Linked DNA regions of Homo sapiens: region 1 is linked to region 2. Evidence: fine-mapped expression QTL. Tissue or cell type: whole blood. Region 2 holds a variant in brackets; the other region holds the start of a gene. All regions are shown on one strand. Distances are between the middles of the regions.

What was found. PIP is the estimated chance that this variant, and not a neighbour inherited with it, causes the effect.
Region 1: it holds the start of PABPC1L, and the variant in region 2 is fine-mapped to the expression of PABPC1L in whole blood (TOPMed, PIP above 0.99).

The regions. Positions count from the first base shown.
Region 1 is chr20:44,907,861-44,912,022 of GRCh38, forward strand. It overlaps PABPC1L (poly(A) binding protein cytoplasmic 1 like), which reads left to right and starts at 2,200. Exons shown (of 15, transcript NM_001372179.1): 1 at 2,200-2,476. The coding sequence starts at 2,284. YWHAB (tyrosine 3-monooxygenase/tryptophan 5-monooxygenase activation protein beta) reads left to right here. Exons shown (of 6, transcript NM_139323.4): 6 at 1-672. RefSeq lists a silencer at 2,054-2,383.
Region 2 is chr20:44,943,345-44,947,506 of GRCh38, forward strand. TOMM34 (translocase of outer mitochondrial membrane 34) reads right to left here. Exons shown (of 7, transcript NM_006809.5): 6 at 109-235. Among named protein-coding and RNA genes, the nearest start is that of TOMM34, 15 kb to the right of the region's middle. The variant A/C (reference allele first, on the strand shown) is at 1,568.

The sequences.
Region 1 (4,162 bases), 35 kb before region 2:
TTAAATATCCATGATTTCTCCCTGTATTGAGGCTAGCCCTGATCATGCTTTTTGTGCCTGTCACCAGGTCTCCCAAGTGCACTCATCCAGGTCAGTGCTCAGATGTGTTTAAGGAGACCCTATATTCAGGGAAGTTGCGTGAACACTGCAGTGGGGAGAATTGAGAATAGTCAGGCCTATCAGTCTCACAGAATCACCCCTCTACCTTTGATATTCCACTTAGCTGTAGAGTCCATCTGTTTGTCCATCTGCTGAAATGAGAAAAGAAAAATTTATGCACTGATTTAAAACAAACCAAAAAAAAAGAAAAAAACAAAAAAAAAAATCCCTCCTTTCTAGCTGAACAAAAATGTGCAGTTAATACTTGGCGCTTGAAAATGCAGTAGTGAATGTGGAACCAAGCCTGTCTGTATATCTGGTAGCTCTTTTCTTGCTTTGTTTTTTCTTACCAGTATTCTGCCTAACGTTTGCTTCTGTGATGGTTATATTGCCTAGCAAGCACACCCGTGGTTGTGAAAATAGTATAGCAAAAAAGAAAAATCCCCGGTTATTGATGTACTAGATTTGTGTATGTCTTTTAAACAGTTCTAGTTTCACCTTACACAGAATAATCAGGAAAAGTGTAAAAATTCAAAAGTGAAATAAAAATTTTATCAGTTAGTTGCCTGTGAATTGATGTGTCACCACCATCTCTGTTGTTACCAGACCTAGCTAACTATTCTGATCACACTTATTTTTAACTCTGTTTTCTTTAAAAATAGGCAAACAGTTTTATTTCATTATTTAGGACCAGAAGTCAAGGTGTTATCCAGGGGAAGAAATTACCATTAATTAAACAGCCTCTTTACACCCGTTACTTGATACCTCTCTACCTTCCACAACAAACCATGCAGGTATTAGGTCCTCTTTAGTGACTTCTAAGATTTGGTATGGACAGTTATTTTGCATTGTATTCGAGCCCACCATCCCTTCCCCATTTTTTAACTCTGAGATACAACCAAGCCAGTGAAATAGGTAACCTATGGTTGCATAAGTCTTGGTCATCACCAAGCTGGCGTCTCACCTGTCCTCACACTGTATGGTGGCCTGCAGAGCTGGTTCCTCACAGGATTTGCCCCTTCTGAAAACATCCACATTACCACAAGGAGAGAAAAATATCAGGATAGAGGGGTCTTTTTTAGCCCAAGATTAGAATTAGTGCTTCCTTGCTACTCTGAGGCTGGACAGCCAGATGGGCACCTTCTGTCCCTAGTTTAGGAGCTGTTCCACCTGTTGAAGCCACACTCAACCAAAAGTCAGTGGGGGCCTACCTGCTCTGTTGGATCAGTGAGACCAGGAAAGTCCTATCAGAGGAAAAGTGAAGTATTGGTGCTCAGTGGAGTAGTTGTTTTGTTTTTGTGTTGTTTTTAATGTCCCTATACCACAGATTGACGCTGCAAGCTCAGATTCACAGTCTTGCTCTGTTTAGGTCTTGCTCTGCTATTAGTTCCCAATTGTCCGCATTTAGGCTGAGCCACAAGTAACTCAGTGAACCTCCCTGGTGTAATGGATGTGTAATGGCTTAGCAGAGGGACAGGGAATATCCCAGGAAAAGGGGTCTTGGTAATATGAGCCAGTACCAAGAAAGGCCTTAGTGGTCTCCAGTTCTCATGTCTCAAAGCCATTTCCATCCTTGGTGCGAAACGGTGGGACTGGATCAGGCTCTCTGGAGGAAGACATCTTCAATGGAGCAGGGTAAAATTCTCTACACAAGCTTTGAAACAGTGGCCTGTTCGGAATTCCGTTTGTGTGTGAAACGCAAAAAGCGCGGTTTGGGTCTCCTTTCATTCTTGTCAGGAGGGAATCATTCCCATTTTACAGAGAAGGGAAACGGGTTCAGAAAGATGATCATCTGTTCCGGGGTTAGAACTCAGTCCCCTGCGTCCTTTCCGTCCCAGTCCTCGGCTCTTTCAAAAGAGCTGGGGGTTTTGAGAGCTCCACTCAAGTCCCAGCAGCCCTGCTCAAGGCCAGGTTGAAGGCTTTTTCCGCCTCCCAGGGCGGGGTCAGAGGTGTCCCCACCTGTAGCTTTTAGATCCCCAAGTGCTCGCAGGTGGGGGGTGGGCCCAGGAGGGATCCCGGGGGAGGGGCGTCCGAGCGCGCCCACGATTGGTGCGCAGGGACGCGGGGGCGGTAAAGGGAAGGGGCGGGCCCGCGCCCAGGAAGGAGGGCTTCCGCCCGGGTGAGCGCGGGGCTGCTGGGTGACCCGGCTCCTGCTTGCCCCGCAGCCCCGGCCCCCTGCCCACCATGAACGCCAGCGGTTCTGGCTACCCGCTTGCCTCGCTTTACGTGGGCGATCTGCACCCCGACGTGACCGAGGCCATGCTCTATGAGAAGTTCTCTCCCGCCGGCCCCATCCTGTCCATCCGCGTGTGCCGCGATGTAGCCACCCGGCGCTCGCTGGGCTACGCCTACATCAACTTCCAGCAGCCCGCGGACGGTGAGCCCCGGGGATGGGGCGGGAGGGGAAGGACCGACGGACAAGCAGGCGGACAGACAGAAGCCGGAACTGGGCCGCTTGCGCTTTCATCTTACACTTTGCAGCCGGGGAAACTGAGGCTCAAAGATAACAGGGCGTTGGCAGAGGCCTGGCCCCTGAGACGGGAATTGGTAATTAGTGTGGTTTACTGCTATTCCTCTACAGAGGAGAGAGATTAGGGTCGAGTGAAAACAGATACAGGCTTTGTGGGGGTGGGGGTGGGGGTCAGGCGGACCAGGGATAGAAGCCCAGCAGCCGTGTGACTCTGGGCAAGTTACTCGACCATTCTGAGCTTCAGATGCGTGTCTGGAAAATGGGGGTCCTAGCTGCCTTATAGAGTGCTTGTGAGGATGAGAGATTCAAAGCACCTGGTGAGGAAGATGCCCAAGGCAACACAGCTGGTGAGCAGGGGAGGCAGGAGAACCCAGCCTTGGGCTCAGGCCTTTCCCAGCGCGACGTGAGATCCACACTGGGCGCCTCTACCTGCACGGGCTCTGAAAAACCGCTGCCTCCAGGCCGCAAGGCCGCTTTCTCAGAGCTGATAGCATTGATTAGAGCTTGTCCGATGAGTTTGCCTGCACTTCTGTTGAGAGTGGAGAGGATGAGTGAGCTTGGGCAAGCCTTCACGCTCTGCACCTTTTCATCTGCAAAATGGGGCTAAGGCGTATTCTCCAATAACATAAAGAATGGAGAACTGCTGTCTATGCATAAAGAATGGTAACTGCTTGTTACCTCGTAAACGCTCTTAAGTGGTAACCTAAAATAAATAAATAAATAAATAAATAAATAAATAAATAAATAAATAAGGCCAGGCGCAGTGGCTCACGCCTGTAATCCCAGCATCTTAGGAGGCCGAGGTGGGCAGATCACTTGAGGTCAGGAGTTCGAGACCAGCCTGGCCAACATAGCGAAACCCTTTCTCTACTAAAAATACAAAAAATAGCTGGGCATGATGGCGGACGCCTGTAATCCCAACTGCTGGGGAGGCTGAGGCACGAGAATCGCTTGAATCCGGGAGGCAGAGGTTGCAGTGAGCCGAGACTGCGCCATTGCACTCCAGCCCGGGCAACAGAGCGAGACTCCATCTCAACACAAAACAAAACAACAAACAAAAAAGAAACAACAACGAAAATAGTGGCTTTAACATTCTGATGTAAGACTCCAGAAACTCACCCAAAAAATGGCCGGCGTCCACTAGAGGGATCCCTTGCGCCAGGTCGCCTGGGTGAACCTGGTGGTTGCCTGAGTGGGTGGTTTGCTAGGGAAGGGGTTGTTCCGCCGGGCCTGTTCCCCGCCCCTTACTGGGCTGGATTCCTGGGCACTTTTCTGTTTGTTCTGCTTTGCTCCACCTCCTGCCTCTTCCCATCTTCCTCCAAGCCCTGTGAATGAAGTGGGACTCGGCCTGGAAACCGTGCTGCAGAGAGAAGGGTTTTGCCCCAGGTATTTATGATAAGACTAGGTGGAGAATCCGGGCTTCCTGAAACTTGCTCCACTGTGTTCCCCACAGCCCCCTTCCATGTCTCTGCACTAGCAGACTCCCTGAAACAGGTCACGTGTATCACCCAGGAGAGACACAGGCTGCAGCAGTGGCCGGAGGCTGGGCATCGGCTGCTGTTTTGAGACATTATTTTGTGTCAGGCACAAAGT
Region 2 (4,162 bases):
AGGAAAAGCTGCAGATATTGTCTCAGCTTGGCTACACCCTGTAAATGGTGACACTGGCATAAATCTCTGTAGCTATGTTGGGACCTTTTGGCCAGGATTTTTTTTTACCTTGAGTGCTTTGTGGGCTTGAGCCCGTCTGTAGAATGCCTTCACGTTCTTTCCATCCAGCTTGAGGGCTTCTGTGCAGTCCTTCACTGCTTCTGTGTACTGCTTCAGGACCAAATAGCAGAGTGCTCTGAAGGGAAAGACCATTTCAGAGGTTTCAGTCACGTCTTATGGGCCACCCACATGCCACGCAGTAGTTTGAGAAGTGATCTCCAATTTGCTGAACACCTACTCTGTGCTGGTTACTTTATGTCTTCTTAAATCCTCACAACAATCCTAGCCCTTTTCATGGATGAAACATGCTGGCTCAGAAGGGTAAAGGAACTTGGGCCAGGTACCGCCAGTATTAAGGGGCAGACCCAGGATTCAAATAGGCGGGCGTTCGTTCATGGGACTCCAGATCCTGATCTCATCTAGTTCTATCATGCTGTACTGCGCTCTCCTATACTGAGCTCTTTCAAGCAAAGAAAAGGTTTCCTGAAACTTTTCCCTTGACAGATTAAAAAATTATCTACTTTAAGGGGGAAAAAAAAACCCAACAACTACTGAACTCTAATGATATAATGCTGACATGGGGTGAAATGTAAAGACGTTTGCAATTTACTTTTAAGTGCATCAAACACAATAATACAGACCAACAGATGGCTAAATAGTGATAAGGCAATGTAATAATACTAATTGTAGAATTTAGATGGTAGGTCTATGGGTGTTCAATGTACAAATCTTTCAACTTTCCTATATTTTGAACATTTTCATAATAAAATGTTGGAAAAAAGTTATGTGCATCCATACAATATATTCTGCATCTGTGGGTTCAAAAAAGTGCATGTGTGTATATATCTTCCTCATTCAGATCTAGTCCTTCTCTCCAAAGACAGTCACTAAAAACAAAACAGTCAGATGTCTGGGCGCTCATTACATAAGTTCATCTGTTCCACCTCACTGTTTTCAGTGGGTGCAGGGTATTCACTAAGTTGGATGTAGCATAATTTATTTTACCAATTTCCTATCAAGAGGTATTTTTCATTGTTTCCAGTTTGTAAATAAGTGATGCCATGATGAACATCCTTGTGCAAGGGACTGCTGTATCCAAAGATACATGCATTTTAAAACCTGACTGGCCAGGTGCAGTGGCTCATGCTTATAATCCCAGCACTTTGGGAGGCCAAGGTGGGAAGGTCACTTGAGCCCAGGAGTTTGAGACCAGCCTGGGCAACATAGGGAGACCCCATCTCTTAAACAAAACAAAACAAAAAAAGAAATAAAATCTGATTGTTACTGCCAAAATGCTTTCCAAAAAAGCTGAATAGTTATTGACAGAGCCTATTTTCCTACAACTGTACCAACTTTGGGTCTTAAATTTTCATGTATGCCAATATGGAATAAAACACTATCTCACTGCCTTAGCTGCTTAGTTGTGGGTAAAGCTGAACATCTTTAATAAGGGTTTTTAATCTTTTGA[A/C]ATCAAACTTCTCTAACTTTTCCTTTAACGACTTCTGTAACATTTTTTTCCCTTCACATAAGAATACCTTCCCCACTGCAAGATAGTTAATCCATGTGTTCTTCTAGAACTTAATGGTTTCGCTTTTTACATTCCAAACTGTGATCCACTCAGAACTTACTTTAAAATAAGAAGCAAGGTAGGATTCAAGTTTAACTCTAACCTGGCCAACCCAACACCTCTTATTAAATAATCTCTCTTTGCCCCAGACTTTATTATACACCAGATTCTCTCATGTCGTTGTTCTCATTTTTTTCTGACTTATCATGAATTTAAAGAAGAAAATTCTACTAGTCCTTTGTGATTGCATGGAATTCATAAATTAACGGAGAGAAAAATCTTCTTGTAACAACTTAAAAGACAGGCACAAATTCTTTGGCAATCCTCCACTGAGAGGCGGAGGTGTATCTGCTCTCTCTCTTTGAATTCGGGCAGGCTCTGTGACTGCTCTGACCAACAGAGGACAGAGGAAGGGACACGATGTGACTTCCAAGGTTAGGTCATAATAGGCCTTGCAGCTTCCACCTTGGTCTCTGGAAACACTCGCTCTTGGAGCCTTGAACTGACAGGGAAGAAGCCAACTACTCTGAGGCCACCACGCTCTCAGGAAGCTCACAGCAGCACACATGAAAAGGCTGCTAAGAAAGTGGAAAGAGGTGCCAGCTTGCTCTAGCAGTTCCATCACCCAGCCATTTGAGTCAGGCAGCCCAGCTGCCAGACATTCGAGGAAGAAGGCTTTAGAGGATTCCAGCCCCAGCTACCATCTTGCTGACCCTGCATGAGAGACCCCAAATGAGAACTGCCCTTCCCTAATTCCTGACTCCACAAATTACAAGCAAAATAAAATGGTTGTTGTAAATCACCAAGTTTTAGAATAGTAGCCCGTTTTAAACTTTGAACACAGAAGAATTCCTTTTTTTTTTTGGAGACAGGGTCTCACTCTGTCACCCAGGCTGGAGTGCAGTGGCATGATAACAGCTCACTGCAACCTCCGCCTCCTGGGTTCAAGCGATTCTCCTACTTCAGCCTCCCGAGTAGCTGGGATTACAGGTGCATGCCACCATGCCCAGCTAACTTTTGTATTTTTTGGTAGAGATGGGGTTTCACCATGTTGGCCAGCCTGGTCTCAAACTCCTAACCTCAAGCAATCTGCCCACCTCAGCCTCCCAAAGTGCTGGGATTACAGGCATGAGCCACCTCTAAACATAGAGGAATTCTAAGGAAATTAAAGTTTCCTCCCAATGGGCTTGGCAATTTAAAGAAATAGCCAAGTGTCTGGGAAGCAGAGGAACCACCGTGTATCGTGACTTCAGAATAGAAATGTGATTAATAGGGTCATGTGAGACTTCTAAAGACTATATTTAAGATGAACAAAATGCATAACTTCAGGCAATAAAATAAACCCCCTTGACTTTTGGTAAATGAAGTAACTGTATCCAGTCAGAAGGGTTTTAATTACAAAGGGGTTGGGAAATAACACAAGTGAGTGAAAGGGAAATAAGCTTTGGAGTCACAAAGATCTGGCTTAAATCTCAGCCACCATGTACTAGTTGTTTAACTTTGTGGTCACTAATTCATCTTTCTGAGCCTGATTAGGTAACACAGGACAATGATCTAAGCTGAAGAACTGTTGTGAGTACAAGTGAGATTCTTATGACAGCTGTTTCAGGGCTGGCAAGTTGTAGGTGCTATGCACTCAGATGTCACCTGCACAAAGGGAGCCAAAGTAAGCCAAAGCCTGGGCATTGTGTCATTCAGATGGGCGTACATGAGGTGGAGCATTAGACTATGTCCAAGACGTTCCAGGACATGATAAAATGTTAGCCACAATGGCTGAAAGTTGTTTTGTCATTAGTCCTCTAGATTAAATTATAAATCCAATGCAATCACAACCAAAAGCTGTCCAACAAGACATTTTTTGGAATTTGCCAAAATGATCCGAAGCTTTAGCTAGAAGAACAAACATGGGAAAATACTAGGAATGCTCTGATTAAGAAGAATGAAGAAAAGACCAGCCCTATAAGATATTATAAAGCAAAAGCAATTAAAACAGTGTGGCACAGACACCTGCATGAAGAACAGTATCTAAACAAGACAAAACACAGCTCCAAATATGGTAATGATCCAGAAAAATGAGTTAATGGAGGTGTCCAGCAGCATAAGGTAAGCAATGTGAAAGAGGGTCCAGAGATAGAGGAGTTAGAAGATGCCACACAAATATGGAACAAATAGGCTGCAGGCTTCTTTTTCAAATTAGCCTGGCAAATTGTGGCCCCTCTGGTCCAATCAGCAATAAAACCACATAAAACCACAGGTGCAAAATTCCAAAATATAAGCTTTAAAACTACAAGTTCTCTTTCCAACTCATTGGGCAGCAAAACCTGATCTGAACTGACATGAAGCTATTTAGTTTCTCTATTCCACCCCATGTGAACATGGAATTTTCAAGTTTCACTGGCAGAAATACTAATAATTAACTTCTGCAAGCTGCCCCAGACACTGCTGGGGTGTTACATAATTCAGACCATATTACCTCACTAAAATGGAAAACACTTC